5 separate regions of the Homo sapiens genome follow, and regions 1, 2, 3 and 4 are each linked to region 5. Evidence: fine-mapped expression QTL. A gene starts in region 5. Each other region holds a variant in brackets. All regions are shown on one strand. Distances are from middle to middle.

What was found. PIP is the estimated chance that this variant, and not a neighbour inherited with it, causes the effect.
Region 1: its variant is fine-mapped to the expression of BET1L in esophagus mucosa (GTEx, PIP 0.97).
Region 2: its variant is fine-mapped to the expression of BET1L in whole blood (TOPMed, PIP above 0.99).
Region 3: its variant is fine-mapped to the expression of BET1L in whole blood (TOPMed, PIP above 0.99).
Region 4: its variant is fine-mapped to the expression of BET1L in whole blood (INTERVAL, PIP above 0.99).

What each region holds. Positions count from the first base shown.
Region 1 is chr11:130,353-135,453 of GRCh38, forward strand. LINC01001 (long intergenic non-protein coding RNA 1001) reads right to left here. Exons shown (of 7, transcript NR_146389.1): 3 at 4,538-4,595; 4 at 4,212-4,444; 5 at 3,236-3,426; 6 at 1,115-1,172; 7 at 1-1,021. Among named protein-coding and RNA genes, the nearest start is that of LINC01001, 6.2 kb to the right of the region's middle. The variant C/G (reference allele first, on the strand shown) is at 3,047.
Region 2 is chr11:235,960-241,060 of GRCh38, forward strand. It overlaps SIRT3 (sirtuin 3), which reads right to left and starts at 383. Exons shown (of 7, transcript NM_012239.6): 1 at 89-383. The coding sequence starts at 369. It overlaps PSMD13 (proteasome 26S subunit, non-ATPase 13), which reads left to right and starts at 1,017. Exons shown (of 13, transcript NM_002817.4): 1 at 1,017-1,185; 2 at 3,039-3,117. The coding sequence starts at 1,091. RefSeq lists a silencer at 449-528 and enhancers at 679-868, 1,029-1,268. The variant T/C (reference allele first, on the strand shown) is at 2,809.
Region 3 is chr11:183,856-188,956 of GRCh38, forward strand. It overlaps a transcript of SCGB1C1 not described here. Among named protein-coding and RNA genes, the nearest start is that of SCGB1C1, 6.7 kb to the right of the region's middle. The variant C/T (reference allele first, on the strand shown) is at 2,225.
Region 4 is chr11:226,077-231,177 of GRCh38, forward strand. It overlaps SIRT3 (sirtuin 3), which reads right to left. Exons shown (of 7, transcript NM_012239.6): 4 at 4,376-4,476. Among named protein-coding and RNA genes, the nearest start is that of SIRT3, 7.7 kb to the right of the region's middle. The variant C/A (reference allele first, on the strand shown) is at 2,438.
Region 5 is chr11:205,131-210,231 of GRCh38, forward strand. BET1L (Bet1 golgi vesicular membrane trafficking protein like) reads right to left here and starts at 2,269. Exons shown (of 4, transcript NM_001098787.2): 1 at 2,173-2,269; 2 at 822-913; 3 at 481-537; 4 at 1-339. The coding sequence starts at 2,191. The coding sequence ends at 172. RIC8A (RIC8 guanine nucleotide exchange factor A) reads left to right here and starts at 2,578. Exons shown (of 10, transcript NM_001286134.2): 1 at 2,578-3,808; 2 at 4,141-4,188; 3 at 4,277-4,870. The coding sequence starts at 3,725. It overlaps MIR6743 (microRNA 6743), which reads left to right and starts at 4,206; the gene lies at 4,206-4,276. RefSeq lists enhancers at 685-1,184, 1,495-1,996, 2,543-3,164, 3,020-3,189, 3,165-3,784 and 1 more and silencers at 1,941-2,000, 2,111-2,230, 3,292-3,490, 3,491-3,780, 3,851-3,960.

The DNA.
Region 1 (5,101 bases), 75 kb before region 5:
CTGCAGAGGCTGTTCTCAAGTCAAAGCTGGGCCTGTTGATGCCACCGGGAAGCAGAAGGTGGGCCTGGAGAGTTTGACTTGAGGAAGTTTTGGGCCTACATTGGCCGCCATGAGCTGGACAGGAACTGGGCCAAAAAAGGCTGTTGTGAGGCAGCAGTTGTGCCTGTAGACCCAGCCAAGAGGAAGAGGTGGGTCTGGAGAAGCCCCCATGAGGCAGAGGTTGGGCCTGTAGACGCTGACAGGAGGCAGGAGCTGGGCCTGGACAGGTCAACTTGAGGAGATTTTGGGCCTTCATAGGCCACCAGGAGGCAGTAGTTGGGACTAGAGAGTCTGACTTGAGTAAGTTTTGGGCCCGGAGATGACGTCCTGGGACAGGAGTTGGGCGTGGAGAGGCCACCGTGAGGCATAAGCTGGATGTAGAGAGGCCAGTGTGAGGCAAGACCTGGGCCTGTCTAGGCTGCTGGGAGACAGGCAGGAATCTGGCCAGGGAAGGTTGCCATGAGACAAAAGTTGGGCCTGGAAAGGCCCTTGTGAAGCATGAGCTTGGCCTAAAGAGGCCACTGGGTGGCAGGAGCTGGGTGTGTAGAAGCTGCTGAAAGGTTGGGAGCTTGGCTTGGGGGGTCCACAGTGAGGTAGATGCTGGGCGTGAAGAATCTGCTGTGAGGCAGACGTTGGGACTGTAGAGGCTGACGGGAGGCAGAGGCTGGGCCTGGAGGGGCCACCAAGATGCAGGAGCTGGGCCTGGAGAGGCTGCAAAGAAGCATGACCTGGGCCTGGTGAGGTCGACTTGAGAAAGTTCAGGGCCTGGAGAGAAGGCTGGGAGGCAGGAGCTGGGTCTAAAGAGGCCATTGTAACGATGGAGCTGTGCCTGTGGAGGCTGTTGTGAGGCAGTAGCCTCATCTGTGGAGGCTGCCGTGACGTAGGGTATGGGCCTAAATAGGCCATTGTGAGTCATGATCTTGGTCTGTAGAGGCTGACTGGAGAAAGTTCTGGGCCTGGAGAGGCTGCCGGGAGGTAGGAGCTGGGCCAAAAGATGTAAGCACATTTGCATTTATTAGGCACTTTATTTCCATTATTACACTGTAATATATAATAAAATAATCATAGAACTCACCATAATGTAGAATCAGTGGGCGTGTTAAGCTTGTTTTCCTGCAACTGGATGGTCCCACCTGAGCGTGATGGGAGAAAGTAACAGATCAATAGGTATTAGATTCTCATAAGGACGGCGCAACCTTGATCCCTCACATGCACGGTTCACAACAGGGTGCGTTCTCCTATGAGAATCTAACGCTGCTGCTCATCTGAGAAGGTGGAGCTCAGGCGGGAATGTGAGCAAAGGGGAGTGGCTGTAAATACAGACGAAGCTTCCCTCACTCCCTCACTCGACACCGCTCACCTCCTGCTGTGTGGCTCCTTGCGGCTCCATGGCTCAGGGGTTGGGGACCCCTGCTCAAGTGCATCCAAAGCGACCCTTCCCACACCAGTCTTCACAGTGGTCAAGGGCAGCAACCACTTAGCTCCCAAGGCATGTGCCTCAGCTGGCATTTCGTCACAATCAACAGTAAGTGGTAGCTTGAGTCACTGTGAGGTCACCTACTGGAAATCACCAGCATCCCATTTCCCACTGGCAAAGAGCTCAGCGCTGCCCCCTGGGAAACCAAACCTATGCCCAAATCCCATCTGTGTGGGTGTATCTCCTGGGACCCTTCCTAACATATTAGTCAGAGTCCAATCAGGAAGCATAAACCACTCAAAAGTTTAAAGTGGTAAAATTTAATACAGAGAATTATTCATTATAACAGGTGAACAGCATAATGAGAGATTGGCTAGCACAAAGTAAAGAGAACTCTAGAGAATATAGGACTAGCCCAGGCCAGGCATGGTGGCTCAGGCCTGAAATTCCAGCAATTTGAGAAGCTAATGCAGGAGGATTGCTTAAGGCCAGGAGCTAGAGACCGGTCTGGACAACAGAGTGAGACCCTGTCTCTATCCAAAAGAAGAAAAAAGTTAGCTGGTGGTGGTAGTGCACACTTGCAGTCCCAGCTACTCGGAATGCGGAAGTTTGAGCCTGGGAGGTCAAGGCTGCAGTGAGGCATGATTATGCCACTACAGTCCAGCCTGGTGACAGAGCAAGACCCTGTCTCAAAGAACAAAACAACAACAACCATTTACAGACAGAAAAGAAATAGAGCTAATAAGCTGAGGAAAGATGTTGAAATGTGACAAGTAAAGTAACATGAGGTCTTTTGTCTATTTAAAATAATCAAACAAAAAATGACTTACTAAATTATAATACCCTGTGCTGGCAAAGGTGCAGTGAAATGGGCACTTTCTTATACTATGAGAGGTGGTTAAATTGTGTATAAGCCTTCCCGGGTAAAGCCTGTCAATTTTTTAAAATAATGGAGACAGGGTCTCACCATACTGCCATACTGCCTCCTCCAACTCTTGGCCTCAAGCAATCCTCCTCTCTTAGCCTCCCAAAGTGCTAAGATTATAGCTGGGAGGCACCCAAAACCCTGTCAATTTACATCAAGGGTAAGGAGAATGTCCATTCACCATGACTCACAGTAATCTTACTTCTGGGGAGACAATTCAGTCTAAACAAAAGGTCATCTGTACACACACAGTAAAAATCTGGGAGTAACTGAAGACAGAGTTGGTAAGTGAAATAAGAAACAGTTATAAGAAATTAAACTATGGTATCAATAGGCACCTGGTACAAAAGGTCAGTTGATGTTGGCTGCTACTTTTTTGTTGTTTTGAGACAGGGTCTCACTCTGTCACCCAGGCTGGAGTGCAGAGGCCTGATCATGACTCACTGCAGTCTCAGCCTCCCTGGGCTCAAGTGATCCTCCCACCTCAGCCTCCCAAGTAGCTGGGACTACAGGAACATGCCACCACACTAGGCTAATTCATGTATTTTTCTGTAGGGATGGTGACTCCCCCTTTGTTTCCAAGGCCTATCGCAAACTCTTGGCCTCGAGCCATCCTCCTGCCTCAGCCTCCCAAAGTGTTGCGATTACCAGTGTGAGCCACCACA[C/G]CTGGCCAGCTGCTACTTTTATCAATATTATTCTTATTCCACTCAATTAAAAATTATTATTTTCAAGGCTATGCAACAGTATGTATCCTACAGCGTAATTGTAAAAACATATACAGTCGTCGTCCCTCAGTATACAGAATTAGTTCCAGCCCCCCATCTCTGCATATACCAAAATCCATGCTTACTCACGTTTCGCTGTCACCCCTCTGGAATCCACGTATACGAAAATTCCAAATATTAGTTGGGCATAGTGGCAAGCACCTGTAGTCTCAGCCACGTGGGAGGTTGAGGTGGGAGGATCGCTTCAGCCTGGAAGGTTGAGGCTGCAGTCAGCTGCGATAGCACTACTACACTCCAGCCTTGGACAACAGAGGGAGACCCTGTCTCAGAACAAAAAAAAATAAAAAATAAAAAATAAAACAGGTTAGAAACTGTGATGAGGTCTGCTGGGCAAAATTCCATATAAGCAAAGTATAAATTAATAAAGCAAATCGTGATAAATTAGTACGATTGACTTTCTGGAGTTTCTGACAATAAAAGTAAGGAAAATGCAGAACACAAAGACAGAGAGTAAAAAGAGAAATTAGGAAAGCATTCTACATGTTGAATAGGAAGACACTGGCCATGTTCGTGCAGCGGCAGTATGTCGTGACATGACATACCTTGGAGAGAAGTTAACAGATGAGGAAGTTGATAAAAATCATCAGAGAAGCAAAATACTGGTAGGGACACTCAAGTAAACCATGAAATTTCCATAACTTATGTCAGCAAAGTGGGAATATTGTACAGTGTGTGTTGAAGTTCCTATACAACATTGTTTATCTGCCTTTTGTTTGTTTGTAAGGAATGTACATACTAAAAGTTCTTCTTGCTGTCAAAAGAATATGTGTGAATAAGTCATTTTAACTTATTCTTCTGTTTTTCTTTTATCTTCCTGCCATCATCCCACAGCCTTACTTTAGAAATTTTTTTTTTAGAAAATTGAACAAGTGCTCCTTGTGGTGGCACATGCCTCGAGGATGGGAGGCAGGGGTGGAAGGGTCACTTGAGGCCATTAGTTTGACACCAGCCTGGCCAACAAAGTGAGACCCCGTGTCTACAAAACAATTTAAAAATTAGCCAAGTATCATCATGTATACCTACAGTCCCAGCTACCTGAACTTACTGAGAATGTTCAGGGCCTGGAGAGAAGGCTGGGAGGCAGGAGCTGGGTCTAAAGAGGCCATTGTAACGATGGAGCTGTGCCTGTGGAGGCTGTTGTGAGGCAGTAGCCTCATCTGCGGAGGCTGCCGTGACGTAGGGTATGGGCCTAAATAGGCCATTGTGAGTCATGAGCTTGGTCTGTAGAGGCTGACTGGAGAAAGTTCTGGGCCTGGAGAGGCTGCCGGGAGGTAGGAGCTGGGCCAAAAGATGTAAGCACATTTGCATTTATTAGGCACTTTATTTCCATTATTACACTGTGATATATAATAAAATAATTATAGAACTCACCATAATGTAGAATCAGTGGGCGTGTTAAGCTTGTTTTCCTGCAACTGGATGTTCCCACCTGAGCGTGATGGGAGAAAGTGACAGATCAATAGGTATTAGACTCTCATAAGGACAGCGCAACCTAGATCCCTCACATGCACGGTTCACAACAGGGTGCGTTCTCCTATGAGCATCTAATGCTGCTGCTCATCTGAGAAGGTGGAGCTCAGGCGGGAATGTGAGCAAAGGGGAGTGGCTGTAAATACAGACGAAGCTTCCCTCACTCCCTCACTCGACACCACTCACCTCCTGCTGTGTGGCTCCTTGCGGCTCCATGGCTCAGGGGTTGGGGACCCCTGCTCAAGTGCATCCAAAACGACCCTTCCCACACCAGTCTTCACAGTGGTCAAGGGCAGCAACCACTTAGCTCCCAAGGCATGTGCCTCAGCTGGCATTTCGTCACAATCAACAGTAAGTGGTAGCTTGAGTCACTGTGAGGTCACCTACTGGAAATCACCAGCATCCCATTTCCCACTGGCAAAGAGCTCAGCACTGCCCCCTGGGAAACCAAACCTATGCCCAAAT
Region 2 (5,101 bases), 31 kb after region 5:
GCCGCAAAGGAAACACGGCAAGGTGAGAAAGAGTGGGCGAGGTGTCGACAACGAACACGCAAGAAGTGCTTGTCCTTGCCCAAAATACCTCGAAAAGAAGAAACTGGGAGCTGCTGCCCTCGGCTGCCTCCGGAATGCCCTGGGCACCTCGGGTCTGGGAGGCCTCTGCAAGGGGCGCGCCGGGTCCAAGGGCTCACCGCGGGCCCCATGGCTGCCTCTCAGCCCCGCACTCACATCGTCCCTGCCGCCAAGCACCAGCCGACAGCCGCAGGCCTGAAACGGCCCCACGCCTCCCCCGGCCTCGACCCGTTCAACTACCCGGCCCCACAGCCGGAGGGCTGCCGCGGCGCGCCAACCCCAGAACGCCATGTTCCGCGCAGTCCAAGGAGTCCTCCGGACTCGCCCCGCCCCCGGCGCCCCGGCCCCGCCTCCGCCTCCCACCCCCGCCCCCGGCGCCCCAGCCCCGCCTCCGCCTACCGCCCCCGCCCCCGGCGCCCCGGTCCCGCCTCCGCGCCCCGCCCCCGCCTCCTTGCCGACGCCTCCGGCGCGCCCAGGTAGACGTAGAGGCGAGTAGAGGAAGTTCCCTAGTCTGGTGTCTCATCTCTCGCCCCGGAGGTCAAACCTGGAGCCAGCATTTCTGTACCCTGCGCTCACACCTTTTTCAACCCGGATGGCGGTGATAGTTAATACTTTCTGAGCGCTTTTACTATGGTCAGGCATTATATTTACACCTAATCCTCGCAAAACACTACTGGGAAGATCCTCATTTGACAGGAGCAATTCCGGGTCACAAAGGCTGACACCACAAAGCTAGTCCGTAGCGGGTTCGACCACAGGCGCCCACACTCTTTGACGCCTCAATGGCACAGCCAAGTGCGCGGGAAGTGGGCTGCAAACGCCGGAGAGTTTTGTCCGGAGCGCAGAGACGCGCTGTAACCGAGCAACCAGCGGGGCCCGCCCCCGGCCTGCTACGGCGCTCCCAGCCTGCCCCGCGCCGCTCGGCGCCGGAAGTGAGTGAGCATTTCCGGCAGCCATCCCCGCGGTGCTGACATCCCGGTTGTTCTTCTGTGCCGGGGGTCTTCCTGCTGTCATGAAGGACGTACCGGGCTTCCTACAGCAGAGCCAGAACTCCGGGCCCGGGCAGCCCGCTGTGTGGCACCGTCTGGAGGAGCTCTACACGAAGAAGTGAGCGCCGAGCAGACGGGCCCTGGGCCCCGGCGATAGAGGGAGACGGAGGGGGCAGGCGGGCGGAGGAGCGGACCCTTGATGGGCTGAGGGCGCCCAGACCCAAGTTGGGGGGAAACGGGGACGTGTAGCGACCGGCTGTGCCGGCAAGGTTTGCTGAGGAACCTTGAGTGGCAGGGTCGAGGAATAAGAGGGATGACAGACCACGAGGGCCAAGAGCTGTAGCCAGGATGTTTCGGTCTGAGATTCACTGCTTCCTTAACGGGGGACTGAGACTGAGGCTTCTGAACTCCTACCTCGGGTCTTACTAAAACGGTTCAGGAGTAGCCTTTGATTTTAGCTCTTGATTCCATCTAACAAGCAAACACACTTTCAGGGCCACCACCCACTTTGGGAAACATGTTGGTGATTCGTGCTTAGCCTTGTCATAGTGTAACTGTATCTACAGTTATCTTTCTCATGGTCTGGAGTTGATAAACCAGAGGCTAGTACAGCTTTGCTGTTTTCCCTATTCATTCTGCAGCTGGTTGCACGGGGTGCAACCACTTCCGCCGTCCCATTGTCTTTACCTTCCATTGTATTTCTCATGGGCTTTCTGCCCCTAGAAAGATCTTAAAGTTTAGGTTTGTTTAGAAACAGGATGAATTGCAGAGCAATTAAATTCTTGCTAAGCACTAACCTCCTTTTAATATGAGTAGAATAAATTGCTGGCATTGGGCTGGAGCTATTCCATAGAAAATACATCTCCTGTAGTAACCTCCCTGTTAACCCTAGCATTTAATATAATACCTTTCACATAGATGTTCCATACATGTTTTGATGATGTTTAGCATTCAGCAGCCTTCTGCTATTAGCAGTTTTTGAGAGCAAATTAATGTTTGGCAAATAATGGTTTGTGTTGGATAGCACTTGGTAATTTTCAAAGCATTTTATCTGCGTTATTAAATATTAGCCTTTGGGTTTTGGATGAAGCGCTATGTCACTGTCCCTGAGGTTTTAAATATTAGCTTATTTAATCCTTTATTCATCCTTTTCACAGAGGAGGAAACTGAAGCTCATTTTAATTGCCTTCCCTGAGATACTCAGCTAATAGGTAGAAGAGCCAGCATCTCAAGTTAGATATGTATGATTCCAAAGTTCTCGTTTCCAGTGAAACCTCACAATAACCCTTTGAGTTAATCTAGATTAATGTTCTCCATTTCATACCTGGGAAAACTGAGTCTTAGAGAAGTTAAGTGATCTCAAAGTGACATAGCCATTCAATAGCAGAGCCAGGAAAAGAACTCAGGTTTATCACATCTGCTTTAGCATTCTTTCTGCTACACCGTAGAGACTGGTTAGTATGGATTTAGTATCCCTTATCAGAAATGCATTGGGGCGGCCGGGCGCAGTGGCTCATGCCTGTAATCCCTGCTACTCGGGAGGCTGAGGCAGGAGAATCACTTGATCCTGGGAGGCAGAGGTTGCAGTGAGCCGAGATGGCGCCACTGCACTACAGCCTGGGCAACAGAGTCAGACTCTGTCTCAAAAAAGAAAGAAAGAAATGCATTGGGGCAAAAGTTTTTTTGGATTTAGTATTTTTTCAAATTTTGAAATATTTGCGATATATACTTACCCGTTCAG[T/C]ATCCATAAATCAAAAATCTGAAATCTGAGATGCTCCAGTGGTCATTTCCTTTGAGCCCTATGTTGGTGCTCAAAAAGTTTTGGATTTTGGAGCATTTTGAATTTTGGAGTTTTGGAGTTTTGGATTAGAGATACCCAACCTGTATTTGTGACTTGATAGAATCATCAAGGCTGGAGGTGTCTGTGACTGGATATTAGGTTAGAGGTCTTAAGGGCTGTATGTTTTTCAGGTTGTGGCATCAGCTGACACTTCAGGTGCTTGATTTTGTGCAGGATCCGTGCTTTGCCCAAGGAGATGGTCTCATTAAGGTAAATAATTTGCTATACCAGATTAGATTATATGAATGTGCTCAAGGACTTTTGAAAATAAGATAGGCTTTATGCTAATAATAATAATAAGCTCCAATATTCAGCAGTCACTTTACGTCAGGTACTGGTCTGAGCGCTTCACATATCCTTCATGACAACGCTGGTCAGTAGATACTACTATCTCACTTTTTTGATGTAGAAGCAAACATAAGACTTTAAGTAACTTACCATAGATCACTGCTGATAAGTGGCAGAAGAGGATTCAAACACTGACATTCTGGCTTTTTTTGAAATTCTAGCATAAAGTATTATCTTACAACATGCCTAAGTATCTTAGTTCATAGGCTTCTTTTTAGTACTCTAGTTTTAGAAACAAAGTTCAAACCCAGTTAGAGGGTGGAGTAAGGTATGAGGAAGATTACTATCTGTGGGAATCTTAGATAACTTCCATCACTCCCCTTCTTTAAGCCGCACTGCTTGCTTGCCCAGACACTTCTGTCCTGGGTAGTGTGGAAAATAAAACACCTTTTGTACTTCGGTTGAGGGTAGGTGGATTGGAGGGAGAGTCCTGTATAGTGTCATGCTGCCTCTGTAATAGAGGACTTTTAGAATTTTTTCAGCAGTAGACAAATACGCACCTTCTTTCCCAGCCTTCCCCAGATCCCCTGACACATCCCCACGAATTTGCTCACTGGTAGCCTCCTCTTTGAAGTTTTTCCTGACATCTTACTCTATGATGGCTTTCTCTGATTCTGAATGAATCAGAGATTCATACCAGCATTGCAACTGATAGCTTATAATTACATTTTGAGTCATTTCTCCTGAATACATTACTTTTATATGCTCGCAATAGAGCTTACCACCTTGCTACCCCACCACCTGGGCTTGTAAGATTTTCTTGTGGTTTATAGCCATCAATTTGACATTTTACTATTCAGAGGAACTTACAATCATCTGTAAGCCTGGAGATTTTGCTGAACATTCAGTCTTCTGGATTATGTGGGAAAATGATAAATGAGACCTGCTTTTTTTTTTTTTTTTTTTTTTTTTTTGACGGAGTTTCGCTCTTGTTGCCCGGGCTGGAGTGCAATGGTGCGATCTTGGCTCACTGCAACTTCCACCTCCCGAGTTCAAGCGATTCTTCTGCCTCAGCGTCCCAAGTAGCTGGGATTACAGGTGCCCACCACCACAGCCAGCTGATTTTTGTATTTCTTAGTAGAGATGGGGTTTCACCAGTGTTGGCCAGGCTGGTCTCAGACTCCTGACCTCAGGTGATCTGCCTGCCTTGGCCTCCCAGAGTGCTGGGATTATAGGCAGGAGCCACTGTGCCTGGCCTGAGACCTGTCTTAATACTTGTTCCCTAAGGTTCTAAATCATCACGATAGATGATTCATAATTGTTTATCTCTGTCCTTTGGTTTCTTATCTTTAAATCACTTTTCTACACATGACAAAATATTTCCTCAACCTCATGGTAAGGTGATGTTTATTTAGGTTGGCAGATCTGAGTTTACTTTTCCCATAGACAGAATAAACCTTTAAAATTTGTTGGGATCCAGCTAGCATAAGTGTAAAATGGATAGTATTTTTGAATTTATAGTCACCAGAAGTAATTTTGACTTTCTGGACTTAGTGGGCTTCTTTTTTAAGGTAATTTTTTAGATTAATACATGTCAGGAAAGTTCAAACATTTCCTTCTAATAAGGAAGATATCTTTGAAATAGTCTTTTGTAATAAAAATGCCATTTTATTTATTTATTATTATTATTTTTTGAGACGGAGTTTCATTCTTATCACCCAGGCTGGAGTGCAATGGCACAGTCTCAGCTCACTACATCCTCCTCCTCCCGGGTTCCAGTGATTCTCCTGCCACAGCCTCCAGAGTAGCTGGGATTACAGGCACCCGCCACCACGCCTGGATAATTTTTGTATTTTTAGTAGAGACAGGGTTTCATCATGTTGACCAGGCTGGTCTCAAACTCCTA
Region 3 (5,101 bases), 21 kb before region 5:
ATGCAAATGGACTGAATAGAAATCTCTTACACAGAAGAATTCCAAATACCTGATATAGACAGCCATCAAGGAGGTGGGGCTAACTCCCCACTCCTTTAAGTATGAGCTCTGCATGATGACTTCCTCCAAAAGCATACATACAATATAGACATGGGAAAAAAGTAACTTCACAGTGAAAAACCTGAAAACACTGCCTCAACCAAGTGATAAAAGTTAACATTAATGGTGATAACACATCTTGAGAGCATGAAGTGACTAGACTAGCACTTGCAAACCAAAAATAAAATTCAAAGATCTTTCCCACAACCACCTCTCCACCAGGGGACACCAAAGTTAACCTGGAAGACTGGTTCAGGCTATGATGGGAAAGAGGTGGTCAGACATGCCTCATTATGCCCTCCTCCCTTTTGGAATTCAGGAAAAGCCAATCAGCATTTAACATCAACACAACCTTAAATCTGATAAGAAACATTTACAATCTATTCTCTCTGAAGCCTGCTACCTGGAAGCTTCATCTCCATGATAAAACCTTGGCCTCCATAACCCCTTATCATAACCCAGACACTCCTTTCTATTGATAGTAAGTCTTTCAACAAACTGCCAATCAGAAAAATTTTAAATGTACCTATAACCTGGAAGCCCCACCCCCCAACCCTAATCCATTGGGTTGTCCCACCTTTCTGGACCGAACCAATATATATCTTAAATACACTTGATTGATGTCTCCTATCTCCCTAAAATGTATAGAACCAACCTGCACCCCAACGACTTTGGGCACATGTTCTCAGGGTCTCCTGAGGGCTGTGTCAAGGGCCATGGTCACTCATATTTGGCTCAGAATACATCTCTTCAAATATTTTACAGTCTTTGACTCTTTTTGTGGACACACTACACATCTGCTCTGCTTCCCCCAAACCCCTAAACCCAGGCTGATTATGAGAAAAACCCCAAGTAAACCACAATGGAGGACATTCTACACAATACCTGACCAATCCTCCTAACACTGTTCCAGGTCCTCAGAAGTAAAGTCTGAGAGACTGTCACAGCCAAGAAGAGCCTGACATGATGACTAAATGTCCTATGGGATCCTAGATAGGATCCTGGGAGAGAAAAAGGCAGAACTAAGGGAAACCAAATAAGATGTGAGCTTATTTAATAATATAGTAATATCCAGTCATTAAGTATGACAAGAAATGATGTAAGATGTTGGTCAGGAGTGGTGGCTCATGCCTGTAATCCCAGCACTTTGGGAGGCTGAGGCGGGCAGATCACCTGAGATCAGGAGTTCGAGACCAGCCTGGCCAACGTGGTGAAACCTCATCTCTACTAAAAATACAAAAATTAGCCGGGCATGATGGCAGGCGCCTGTAATACCAGCTACTCAGGAGGCTGAGGCAGGAGAATCGCTTGAACCTGGGAGGCGGAGGTTGCAGTGAGCCGAGATCACGCCACTGCACTCCAGCCTGGTTGAAAAAAAAAAAAACCTGGTCTGGAAAAAAAAAAAAAAAAAGATGTTAAACCTATCTGATACATGTTGATATGTTAAAAAGAGGGGAAACTAGGTTGCGTCTACATGGGAAATCTGCATTTTCTTCCCAATTTCTGTATGAATCTAAAACTAATTTAAAATAAAACCTCTATTTAAAAATTGTAATTTTTTCAGATATCTGCTAAATTATTTGTACTAAAAATTAGTAATTGACAGTAACTACTCCTACTTTTAAAAATAAGAGCATTCATGATACTGCAAAGTAAATTATACAGACTAATATATACTTTCAAAGAAATGCCCCTTTTACATGTTTTATGTTAAGATAACATATATGTGTAAACATGGTCATATCATTTTTCTTATGGTGTAGTTCACTCTCTAAGAAAGCTGGTCATCTTAGAACCAGGGAAAAAAATTCACATTTTGGAGACTATTTCAATTTACGGCTGGAAGTTTTCAAAGTATGACTTTGTGAAAAAAAAAAAAGTTCAAATTGATTCATTGTGACTGGATCACTTATTCTAATGAATGCTTGTCTTTATTTTGTTTCCCAGCATTCCTTTCAGCTACGATACAACAGAAGCAAATATTTGCCACTGGAAAAAATATTCAAAGACACTCTTAGGTTAATCTATAGCTGATGACAGTCAGTCTAGTCTACATAGCAAGCAGCTTCAAGATATGATTACTTAGCTAAGAGGGAAATGGGACGTGACTGCTGCCTCATTCCCA[C/T]GCCTCTCTGGACCTGATAATTTAGAGGAAGCTCACATTCGCAAGATAAAAATTTTCTTTTCTTTCTCAGTATTAAATATGCTGTCACAGTAGAAGAAAGCTTTACTGACTTCTTAAATGATGTGTTGAGACCGGAAACCTAAAATGATAGTTACTGAGAATACTGCTAATGCCCTAAGACCGGAACCCTAAAATGATAGTTACTGAGAATAGTGCTAATGCCCTAAGACCGGAACCCTAAAATGGTAGTTACTGAGAATACTGCTAATGCCCTAAGACCGGAACCCTAAAATGATAGTTACTGAGAATAGTGCTAATGCCCTAACACCGGAACCCTAAAATGATAGTTACTGAGAATACCGCTAATGCCGTAAGACCGGAAACCTAAAATGATAGTCACTGAGAATACTGCTAATGCCCTAAGACCAGAACCCTAAAATGATAGTTACTGAGAATAGTGCTAATGCCCTAAGACCGGAACCCTAAAATGATAGTCACTGAGAATACTGCTAATGCCCTAAGACTGGAACCCTAAAATGATAGTTACTGAGAATACCGCTAATGCCCTAAGACCGGAACCCTAAAATGATAGTTACTGAGAATACCGCTAATGCCCTAAGACCGGAACCCTAAAATGATAGTTACTGAGAATAGTGCTAATGCCCTAAGACCGGAACCCTAAAATGATAGTTACTGAGAATACCGCTAATGCCCTAAGACCGGAACCCTAAAATGATAGTTACTGAGAATACCGCTAATGCCCTAAGACCGGAACCCTAAAATGATAGTTACTGAGAATACCGCTAATGTCCTAAGACCGGAACCCTAAAATGATAGTCACTGAGAATAGTGCTAATGCCCTAAGACCGGAACCCTAAAATGATAGTTACTGAGAATAGTGCTAATGCCCTAAGACCGGAAACCTAAAATGATAGTTACTGAGAATACCGCTAATGCCCTAAGGTTTTAGTCACACCCTCACCTAGGCAGGAACCCAACCAAAAGGGGAGAACTGTGGAACAAACTACGGGAGGTCATTGTTTCGGTCACCACTCCCGCACTAGGCCACACTGAGCAGGCAAAATCAGAATGGAGACACTCACGCTGAATGACACACAACGAAGCTGAAACTCTAAGGAAGTAGATAGATCCCAAAAGAGCTCCCTTTTTCCCTGAAGAGATTCCAGTCTACCTGAGTCAGCATAAAGAAGTCCCCTCTGCTTTAATTCTTACCAAAACAAGTAACTTGAAGTAATCTGATATTAACAAATCAGTTGTTATTTTCTATTGCTCTATTTCCGCCTTACACAACACAGTGTTCTGCTATTGCCCAGAGGGCACTGAGACCAAATAAAACTTGAAAATGCCACACTGAAAGCAAATAAGTCCTAATAACTCAATTTACAACGACAACAAAGAGTGACACCAATGCCCAAAGTTTTGATCAATATCTCAAAATTGAGAGGCTGACCAAAAGGGAGGAATTCTTACATCAAACAACATTTGGGCTCTGGAAGCCTCCCGAGGAGTCCTTGTAAAGAGTCGCGGCCGGGCGCCGTGGCTCACGCCTGTAATCCCAGCACTTTGGGAGGCCGAGACGGGTGGCTCATGAGGTCAGGAAATCGAGACCATCATGGCTTACAAGGTGAAACCCAGTCTCTACTAAAAAAAAAAAATACAAAAAAATTAGCCGGGCTTGGTGGCGGCAGCCTGCAGTCCCAGCTACTCGGGAGGCCGGGACAGGAGAATGGCGTGAACCTGGGAGGCGGAGCTTGCTGTGAGCTGAGATCGCGCCACTGCACTCCAGCCTGGGCGACAGAGCGAGACTCCGCCTCAAAAAAGAAAAAAGAAGAAGAACAAGAAGAATCGCAACCTAATTTAGTATAGAAACAAACTGAAAATCTGACTTGGGAATGTATCATGGTAACAAATAGCGGCGGTTCAGCCAATCACATCAGCCGAGTGTCAGTCAATGGCCGGCAGCCAGCTGTTCAAAACAAGTTCCAAGAAGGCAAATCCGGGCTGTAACCAGGTCTGTAACCAATCCAGCCACCTCTATACCTCACTTCTGTTTTCTGTATGTCACTTTTTTCCTCTGGCTATAAATATAACCCGCACATGTTGTGTGGCAGATCATTCTGAACCATTTTTGGTCTGGACTGCTGCCTGATTCTAGAACCACAAAAAAAAGCCAATTAAGATCTGCAAACCCACATTTGTTGTAATTCTGTATTTTAACAGTTGTGCCCTACAAAAGACATTAAGCTGAAATTAATTAAAAATCATTTACGGTCATGATTAGGTCATAAAAAATTGTCAAACATAACAATTCTTCAAAAAAAGCTAAAAAGTATATTTTAAAAATATTGTTGATGGAAAAAAGAGTGCAAAAGTAGATAGGAAAATTATGTACAAAACTAAAAACAGAGGAGAAATTAAAAGTCAAATAATTGCATCAAACTGGAAACCTAGAAAAAATGGGTGATTTCCTAGTAAAAATACACATTAACAAAATGGGCCCTGAAATAAGGCAACTATGAATATACCAATTAGCATAGAAAAGCTAAGAAAGGTCCTTAAAGATCTCCCAGTGGAAAAAGGCCCCAGGACCATCTGGGTCCATAGCTTAGTGTAAGCTGACTTAACTAAATGTGATTTTACACTCGTGCATTGCATACATATGATGGTGGTCCCATGACATAAAAATGGAGCTGAAAAATTCCTTCCTAGCCATCTTGTCATAAGCTCATGGCTCAACGCATTACCTTTTCTCTGTTCTGATACCATGAAAGGAAAATAAATCTCAGGACCCCCAAATCACTAAGCCAAGGGAAAAGTCAAGCTGGGAGCTATGTCAGGCAAACCTGCCCTCATTCT
Region 4 (5,101 bases), 21 kb after region 5:
TTTACCTAAGATAGAAGGAAACAGAGGAAGAGAACTAAGCAGACCTCTCAGGGAAGGGTGAAGGAACCATTAATCTCATCTTGTCTTTAATCTGTATCTGGGAAGATAAACCAGTAATCCACATTAGCAGTGTAGAGTCTTTGAAAAGGGCTGGTTTCTGTTTAGCCCTTAGTGAAGAAGCCTAATGGTGGCTGGGGAGGGAGGGGTACAGTGAGGCGCGTCTGACCTCCTCTCCTGCTACGGCCAGGAACTCAAGCTTCCAAGGTTTCTCTGGGGTTCCCTTGACCAAGGGGAGGGCTCCATTCAGTTGGTTGCAGGGCTTAGAATTTTATTTTATATTTTATTTTTTTGAGATGGCATCTCGCTCTGTCACCCAGGCTGGAGTGCAGTGGCATGATCTCGGTTCACTACAACTTCTGCCTCCTGGGTTCCAGCAATTCTCCTGCCTCAGCCTCCCGAGTAGCTGGGATTACAGATGGGTGCCACCACAAATGGCTCATCTTTGTATTTTTAGTAGAGACGGGGTTTCACCATGTTGGCCAGGCTGGTCTCAAACTCCTAACTCAGGTGATCCACCCGCCTCAGCTTCCCAAAGTACTGGGATTACAGGCAGGAGCCACCGCGCCCAGCCTAGAATTTTATTTTATTTTTCTTAAGGAAGGCCTACAATTATTATTATTATTTTTTTTTTTTTGAGATGGAGTTTCGCTCTTGTTTCCCAGGCTGGAGTGCAATGGCCTAATCTCAGCTCACCGCAACCTCCGCCTCCCTGGTTCAAGCAATTCGCCTGCCTCAGCCTCCCGAGTATCTGAGATTATAGGCATGCACCATCACGCCCGGCTAATTTTGTATTTTTAGTAGATATGGGGTTTCTCCATGTTGGTCAGGCTGGTCTCAAACTCCTGACCTCAGGCGATCCACCCACCCGGCCTCCCAAAGTACTGGGATTACGGGCGTGAGCCACCATGACCAACTGGCCTACAAATTTTAAGCAGAAGAAATAAAAGAAAATTCATATGGAAAACCACAGTGGAGAAACCGCAAAACTCCAAAGACAAAAGTCTTAAAAAACAGGCAGAGAGGCCAGACACGGTGGCTCATGCCTGTCATCCCAGCACTTTGGGAGGCCGAGGCGGGTGGATCATGAGGTCAGGAGTTCGACACCAGCCTCACCAACATAGTGAAACCCCATCTCTACTAAAAATACAAAAATTAGCTGGGCATGGTGGCGCATGCCTGCAATCCCAGCTACTCAGGAGGATGAGGCAAGAGAATCGCTTGAACCTGAGAGGGGGAGGTTGCAATGAGCTGAGATCATACCACTGCACTCCAGCCTGGGCAACAGAGCAAGACTCTATCTCAAAAAAACAAAAAATCCAAACAACAACAACAAAAATAAAACAGGCAGAGAACAGATAGCAACAGTTTCAGAAATTTATATGAAAAGCCAAAAGATTCAGACCAGCCAACACAGTACTGAAGGAGAAGAACAAAGGTGGGGAATTAACATCAACCTGTTGCCCAAATTATCTATTTTATTCTCTTATTTATTTATTTATTTTGTTTTGAGATGGAGTCTCACTCTGTCACCCAGGCTGGAGTGCAGTGGTGCGATCTCAGCTCACAGCAACCTCCCCTCCCAGGTTCAAGCAATTCTTCTGCCTCAGCCTCCTGAGTAGCTGGGATTACAGGTGCACCACCACACCTGGCTAATTTTTGTATTTTTAGTAGAGATGGGATTTCACCATTTTGGCAGGCTGCTCTCAAGCTTCCCACCTCAGGTGACCCGCCTGTCTAGGCCTCCCAAAGTGCTGGAATTACAGGCGTGAGCCACTGTGCCCAGTCCCAAATAATCTCTTTTAAATGCAAATCCCTTCACATCATTTTCCTGCCTAAAAATCCTCCAATGCCTCCCATGATCGTCAGGATACAGTTCAAACCCTAACAGAGCAAGCAGGCCTCCCACACTCCAGGTCTCTGCTGCCAGAAACAGACTCTTACATCCAGACGGCCTCATCTCAAAGGTGCTTCCCAGCCTACTCTGTTCCTACAGCTGAGTCAGTGTAGTGTCCAGTACATATTTATAGTAAAATTCGTATGGCACCCAGTTGTAACTGTTGGATGACTCCACCTTATTTTAATTTCTATTCACATCCACAGAACCCAGCAAAGGGCCTGGCACTGAGGAGACTAAACTATTTGTTGAATAAATTGGTCATTCAATGAATGAGTTGACCAAAACAATAATACGTATATATCAAGTTTCTACTATGTGCTGGACTCACACTTCCTAATTTCAAAACTTACTACAAAGCTACAGTAACCAAAACATTATAGTGCAGGCACAAGGATATACAGATAACAATGGAATAGAATTGAGACTCTAGAAATAACCCATACACCTATGGCCAACTGATTTTCAACAACAATGCCAAGA[C/A]CACAGTTTTTTTAAACAAATGGTGCTGGAACAATTACATATCCACATAAAAGAAAATGAAGCTGGATCCCTACCTTACAGCGCACACAAAAATTAACTCAAAATGGATCAAAGAACTAAATGTAAAAGCTTTAAACTATAAAACTCTTATAAGAAAACAGGAGTAAAACAATACCATTTCTCAGATATGATTCCAAAAGAGTGAGAAAATAAATAGACAAACTAGATTTCATCAAAATCAAAACTTCTATGCATCAAAAGACATCAACAAAGTAAAAAAGACAACCTACAGAATGACAGAAAATATTTGCAAATCATGTCTCTGATAAGGATCTAGCTTCCAGAATATATAAAGGACTCTCTTAACAATAAAAAAGACAACACAATTAAACAATGCGCAAAGGACTTCAATCTCCAAAGATATACAAATGGCCAAAAAGCACATGGAAAGATGTTTGATATCATGAATCATTAGGAAAATGCCAATCAGTGCTACAGTGGGTTACCACCTCCCACCCACTGGGATAGCTGTAATTAAAAAATGGAAAGTAAGTGTTGGGATGTGGAAAAGATGAAACCCTTGCCCACTGTTGGTGGAATGTAAAATGGTCCAGCTTCTGCAGATAACAGTATATTCGTTCCTCAAAAAGTTAAAACGGGCCGGGCGCAGTGGCTCTCGCCTGTAATCCCACACTTTGGGAGAAAGAGGCAGGCGGATCACGAGGTCAAGAGATCGAGACATCCTGGCCAACATGGTGAAACTACTCTACTAAATACAAAAATTAGCCGGGCGTGGTGGTGTGTGCCTGTAGTCCCAGCTACTCAGGAAGCTGAGGCAGGAGAATCGCTTGAACCCAGGAGGCGGATGGTACAGTGAGCCGAGATTGCGCCACTGCACTCCAGCCTGGTGATAAGAGCTAGACTCCGTCTCAAAACAAACAAACAAAAAAGTTAAACATGGGCAGGGCATGGTGGCTCACGCCTGTAATCTTAGCACTTTGGGAGGCCGAGGCGGGTGAACCACCTGAGGTCAGGAATGCAAGAGCAGCCTGGCCAACATGGTGAAACCCCATCTCTACTAGAAATACAAAAAACATTAGCTGGGCATGGTGGCAGGCACCTGTAATCCCAGCTTCTCAGGAGGCTGAGGCAGGAGAATCGCTTGAACCCGGGAGGCAGAGGTTGTATTGAGCCGAAATCGCGCCATTGCACTCCAGCCTGGGTGACAGTGTAAGACTGTGTCTCAAAAAATAAATAAATAAATATAGCTAAACGTGGAGTTACCCAGCAATACTTGTAGGTATCATACTCAAAAGAATAAAAAACAAGGACTCTCAAACGAATACTTGCATATGCTCCACAGCAGAACTATACACAAGAGCAGAAAGGTGGGACAACCCAAACACCCATCCATGTACAAACAAACCAACTGTGGTGCATACATCAGTGGAACATTTAGCCATGAAACAGGATGAAATACTAACACAAGCTACAAGGCGAAGGAGCGAGAAACATTTTCAGGAAATAAGCTCGGCACAAAAGGCCATCTGATTGCCGGGCGTGGTGGCTCACGCCTGTAATCCCAGCTACTTAGGAGGCTGAGGCAGAAGAATTCCTTGAATCCGGGAGACGGAGGTTGCAGTGAGCCGAGATCGCCCACTGCACTCCAGCCTGGGCGACAGAGTGAGACTCAATCTCAAAAAAAAAAAAAAAAAGTGGGCAGCTGGAATTGGCTGAAGGGAGATTCATTTTCCCTACATATTTCTATATTGTCTTAAATTTTTTTACAAGCATGTATTGATTTTCTAATTTACAAATAAAATGTTTCACACTATTATTGTTCAACTGTCCTTTCGAGACAATGCTTATAAAATACCACTTTTCCAGATCACCCCAACAGCAAACTGCAGAAGGACAACCAACAGCAGGATAACTCACCCGAATGTCCTCCCCTGGGAAGGGTCTTTGGCAGACTGTGCAGGTGGCAGAGGCAAAGGTTCCATGAGCTTCAACCAGCTTTGAGGCAGGGATGCCCGACACTGAAATTCAAGCCAAAGCGAAGTGTTGCTGCCGCCTCCGAGATGAGCACGCAAGGCCAAGAGCACAACTTCTGGGCTTGGCAGGACTCCTGGAAGGAGGCACAGCCCCTTGGGGTTGTGATGTCCTCAAGCCTGGTTTTCATGCCCGTATCACCTACATGCGCCATCAACCAGAATAAGGCAGGGGAGCAAAGGGGCACCTAGCTGGAGCCAAATCACGGTTAAAACAAAGCCTGTCAAAACTCAGTACGAAAAACCATTTGATAAAAGCTCAAATAAAATTATATCCAGCCGGGCACAGTGGCCCACACCTGTAATCCCAGCACTTTGGGAGGCCGAGGTGGGCAGATCATTTGAGGCTAGGAGTTCAAGACCGGCCTGGCCATCATGGTGAAACCGTACCTCTACTAAAAATACAAAAATTAGCCAGATGTGGTGGCAGGCACCTGTAGTGCCAGCTACTCGGGGAGGCTGAGACAGGAGAATCGCTTGAACCCGGGAGGTGGAAGTTGCAGTGAGCTGAGGTCGTGCCACCGCACTCCAGTTTGGGTAAGAGAGCGAGATTCTGTCTCAAAAAAAAAAAAAAAAATTACACCTAATACCAGGCTGGGTGCAGTGGCTCATG
Region 5 (5,101 bases):
GCTCATCAGGTCACAGGCAGCCGCAGCCTCCTGCCACACAGGAAGAAGATTCCTGACCCACAATTATCATTGCAAAGGAGTATTTTGTAGGTAAGTCCTCTGGAGCCCAAAACACCAGGCAGGGAAGACCCTGGCTGCCCTTGGCACCCACAGACACCAGCTCCCACTGGCTCACGTCCTTGCCCTGGACAAGAAGTAGGAGAGGATGAAGAAGGCCACAATTAGACCCACGGCCATGCCACATAGAAGCTTCCGGTTGTCTTGTCCGGACCTTGCCATTGTGGAAAAGCGCTTCACGCTCCCTGTAAGCAGGCTGGTCATGCTTGTGAAATCCGAGTCCTAAGGGAGGAATCCCAGCAAGATCACACAGAAGTGGTGATTTGACCACCCACCCGCACCAGTGCTGAAGGAGACACTGCAGGCTCTGCAGCAGGTAGTGCTAGGGCAGGGCACTGATACACGCACACCGTGGGCCCTTACCATGCCATCCAGGTACCGGTTCTGATCCTCTGCATCCCTATCGATGTCCAGGGCGAGCTGTTCAGCAGACAGAGAGGGCAGGGTTGGGCCAGAGCAGACACATAATACAGCACTCACCCTCCCCAGACCAGATAAACCCTGCCAACAACTCTGCCAGACACAGTGGGGCTGCAGCAGACAGAAAGGTCCAGGTGTCAGCTGGGGCCTCATGCAGGTGAGCACAGCCACGAATTGGATGAGGATGGAAAACTGCCTGAAACTCCTCTGGGCCCTCTGCCTTCCCTCTGATCCCCATTCCCCAAAGGCACCAGGTGGAGGTAAGAGGACAGACCACCACTGACCGATTTGAGCCTGGTGACTTTGGAGGCCAGGCTGTCAGCCATTCGCTTGTTCTCCCGGTCTAGAATCTCTTCCACAGCGCCCGGGCTCTGAGCTGAGAAAAGAGAGGGGCTGAAGGGTTGCATCCATCGGTGAGCACGGCCCCTGACCCCTCTCACTCCAACCACATCTGGGTGAGTCAGAAATCTAGGGGGCCCTAACCAAGGTTCCAGCAGGTGAATCTTGCACATGAGACAGGCTGCATAAAGGACGATGTGTGTAAGGGCCTGTCATGTGAACACATGTCCTGTGTACACATCAAGGTGGGGATGGGCAAGCACCCACAATGGGTTCGGTCCAACCAGCACCTTCTGAGACTGTGTAGCAAAAACTGGACCCAGCCCTGGGGTGCTAGTATGATGTGACACTTGCATCCAGGGAGGTCACCATCTGTGTATGTGGAGCCCATTCTTATAGAAAAAGAGTAAACTCTGCTAAGAGCATAGAAAAGACTTGGGAAAAGTACCCAGCAAGGCAGCAGAAAGGCTCCTGCAGAGACGACCTTTGAGCTAGGTCCTGAAGAGGTGGCAAGGAACCAGGACAGAACATTGGGAAGGCCCTTTACCGCACAGAAAATGGCTGAGCAAAGTTCCCAATTTCCCCGAGACGGGAGCTGAGGTCGACCAGGAGCGGGATCCTTGGTCTGCATCCCGCATGGGGCTTCCTGCAACACCCAGGGCAGAGTGCTCGCAGAGGCCTGGCCTGTGACAGGCTGGGCCAGGGGATAAGGAAGTTCTGTCACATCAGGTGCGTGAGAACCACCTCCTCCCTAGCTTCAGTGTCAGGAAGGGATGCCAGCGTCCTTCCAGCCACTTCATATTTATAAATTCCTTTAATCATCATAACACCTCACAGAGACAGGCATCAATATCCCACTTTGCAGACAAGAACACGGGCTCCAGGAGGGGAAATGGGGCCACCGAGGCCAAAGTAAGAGTCCTGCTTGGACACCAGCGGAGCACAGCCTCTACTCCTAGGGCCTGGCCTCGGGACCTGTCGAATGCCGACTCCCGCTCACCCCGAACCCATGCAGAACGATCTCACAGGGGGCGGCGGGGAGTGGGGAGACCCCGCTGCTGCGCGACCCCTCGCTGGAGCTGCTGGGCCGCCACGCGCGCCTTCGGTCCTAACGGCAGTGCCGGCCGAAACCCGGCCCTGCTCGGACCCGGAAGGATCCGAATCCGCCCCCCTGACAGGGTCCTCTCGGCCGAGGTCACCCCAGCTGGGCCAGAGGCAGGCGCACGCGGCTCTACAGGCAGCGGCGTCGGTTTCGGCCCGGCCCTGCCCCCAACGGCTCCGCTCTCCCGCGCTCACCCCGAGCCCAGTCCGCCATCGTGCCCTGCCCCGGCTCCTCGACGCGGACACCGACGCGGCCACAGCCGCCTCAGACGTGGCGCAGTCGCGGGGAAAGAGCTTCCGGCCCCGCCCCCAGCTAGCGATGGCCCCGCCTCCGCACCGACCACGCCCCTAGATAGCCCAGCCCCTTCCGCTTCGGGCTCGCTGACTTCCGGCTTAGGGCCGAGGGTGGGGAACTGCCGGGCGCGGAAGCGATGGGCATATCTGTGGCTTATTTTCAGCACTGTCGCGCAGACAGTGGCGCGATCTCAGCTCACTGCAGCCCCCGCCTGCCGGGCTCCCAAGGTGCTGGGATTACAGCAGCACCGCGGATGTGACGTTTGGTGTTCCTGTGAACGTGGGGCGGGGCGGGGCCGTTTGCTTGCTCAGTGCCTAGACGATGGTGGTGGAAAGACGCTTCTGTGGGTTAGGTCCTAACGGTTAGGAAGGATTCACAGGCGGGTCATGAGGAAGGAGCAGACCCCTCGGGCAGAAGCCCGCGAGGAGCACTGGGTGTGGTGGGGGCAGGGGTGCCTCCTCTGTCAAGTGGAGATCGGCGCCTCGCTCGTGCCTGCGAGTGCGCGCCGCGTCGAATACAGCCGTACAGAACGCACTACAGGAAAGTGAAGCCGGGAGAGAGACTGGGAGGCGGCGCGGGGACTGGGGGCCGTAGACGCCTTTGCTCCCGGGCACTTGTTAGAAGAGCGAGTGGATCGCGCTTCCTGTGCGTCACTGAATCCTCATGACGGCCACTGAAACGGACACGCAGGATCTTTGCTTTTCAAGAGGGAACTGAGTCCAGGCCAGACTGGGTTGCTCCCCTTTCTCTCGGCCCCTCCACCTTTGCAAGTGCTGCTCCTTCTGCCTGGAGTGGCTCCTCCAGTCTTTTCCCGGCTCACTTCCCACCGTCCGGTGTCAGCAAAAACAGCACTTCCTCACAGCCCGTTGCAGCCCAGCAGTCGCCTTTTGCTTCTTTTGAAGCACAGCCCTGTGACCGCCTCGTGTCCTTTTGTTTTTCCTTGTCCCCCTTCCCCTCTGGAACATAAGCTCCACAAAGGCAGGGACCTGGGAATCCCGTTCGCCTGCATTCCCCAGCAAACGCCTAACGAACCCAATGGCCCAGGACTGAAAATTCCTTTCCACTTCGGCTTTCCCCTCTACATCCCATCGGTTCTGTGGAGCTCGAGGGGCGTCACTGTGTGTGTGGCAGGGCACGGTGGGGGCTGAGATCGTTTCCTGTTGGAACTTCTGGCCCAAGAAGCGCGGGTCACAAGGAGAGGGGTCAGTTCGGTTCAGAGCGACTCAGCCCCTCGACTCGGGTCTTAAAACCTCCGAGCCGCCAGTTCTGCCTCAGGCCGCGCCCCCTTAAAGCGCCACCAGACGCTGCGCCCCGTTAAAGCGCCACCAGACGCCGCGCCCCGTCCCGGCCTCCCCCGCGCGCTGGCGCGGGGCTTTCTGGGCCAGGGCGGGGCCGGCGAACTGCGGCCCGGAACGGCTGAGGAAGGGCCCGTCCCGCCTTCCCCGGCGCGCCATGGAGCCCCGGGCGGTTGCAGAAGCCGTGGAGACGGGTGAGGAGGATGTGATTATGGAAGCTCTGCGGTCATACAACCAGGAGGTAAGCGGCCGCCTGAGGCCGGGGGGCGGGCACGGAGGGGGTGGGGCAGGGTCGTGCGCGGGTAGCAGGGAGGGCGTGGGTGAGGCAGAGGCTGTGTCAGCAAGCGTAGGGGACGCGGCGGGGTGCGGGGGGCAGGTCTGGGATGCAGTGTTGCGGGGAGAGTGGGGGTGCACCCGTTGGGTGGCAGGCGTGTAGGGATGGGGGCGAGTGCCGACCCTGCCATCCGTTCTGAGCAGTGGCTGCTGCCTGAGTTAGAGGCCAATAGGCCGCCCGCATCAGCGGACGCGGATCCTACCCCTCTGTGGATTTGAATTCACTAGTTCTCTCTGCAGCACTCCCAGAGCTTCACGTTTGATGATGCCCAACAGGAGGACCGGAAGGTGGGTGCTGGCCCAAGGGGTAAAGGGGCAGGGACGGGTGGCCCCAGGAAGAAGGGCCTGGTGGAGCCGCTCTTCTCCCTGCCCACAGAGACTGGCGGAGCTGCTGGTCTCCGTCCTGGAACAGGGCTTGCCACCCTCCCACCGTGTCATCTGGCTGCAGAGTGTCCGAATCCTGTCCCGGGACCGCAACTGCCTGGACCCGTTCACCAGCCGCCAGAGCCTGCAGGCACTAGCCTGCTATGCTGACATCTCTGTCTCTGAGGGGTCCGTCCCAGAGTCCGCAGACATGGATGTTGTACTGGAGTCCCTCAAGTGCCTGTGCAACCTCGTGCTCAGCAGCCCTGTGGCACAGATGCTGGCAGCAGAGGCCCGCCTAGTGGTGAAGCTCACAGAGCGTGTGGGGCTGTACCGTGAGAGGAGCTTCCCCCACGATGTCCAGTTCTTTGACTTGCGGCTCCTCTTCCTGCTAACGGCACTCCGCACCGATGTGCGCCAGCAGCTGTTTCAGGAGCTGAAAGGAGTGCGCCTGCTAACTGACACACTGGAGCTGACGCTGGGGGTGACTCCTGAAGGGAACCCCCCACCCACGCTCCTTCCTTCCCAAGAGACTGAGCGGGCCATGGAGATCCTCAAAGTGCTCTTCAACATCACCCTGGACTCCATCAAGGGGGAGGTGGACGAGGTGAGCACTGACCTTAACCCATGGATGGGTCTCAACTCAGCTCCAACATTTCCTGGACCTGCTTCCTACTGGGTACCTTCAGGTTTCTGGGTGTCAGACATGGAGAGGACAGGACCTCCCAGCCTGTTGGGACAAGGCCAAGGAGATGCCAGTTCTGGGCTGGGACCTCAGGAAAGGCTTCTGAGGGAAGTAGAGGCCCCTTCTGGCTCTTGCTGCCTGGCAGGAGGGCTG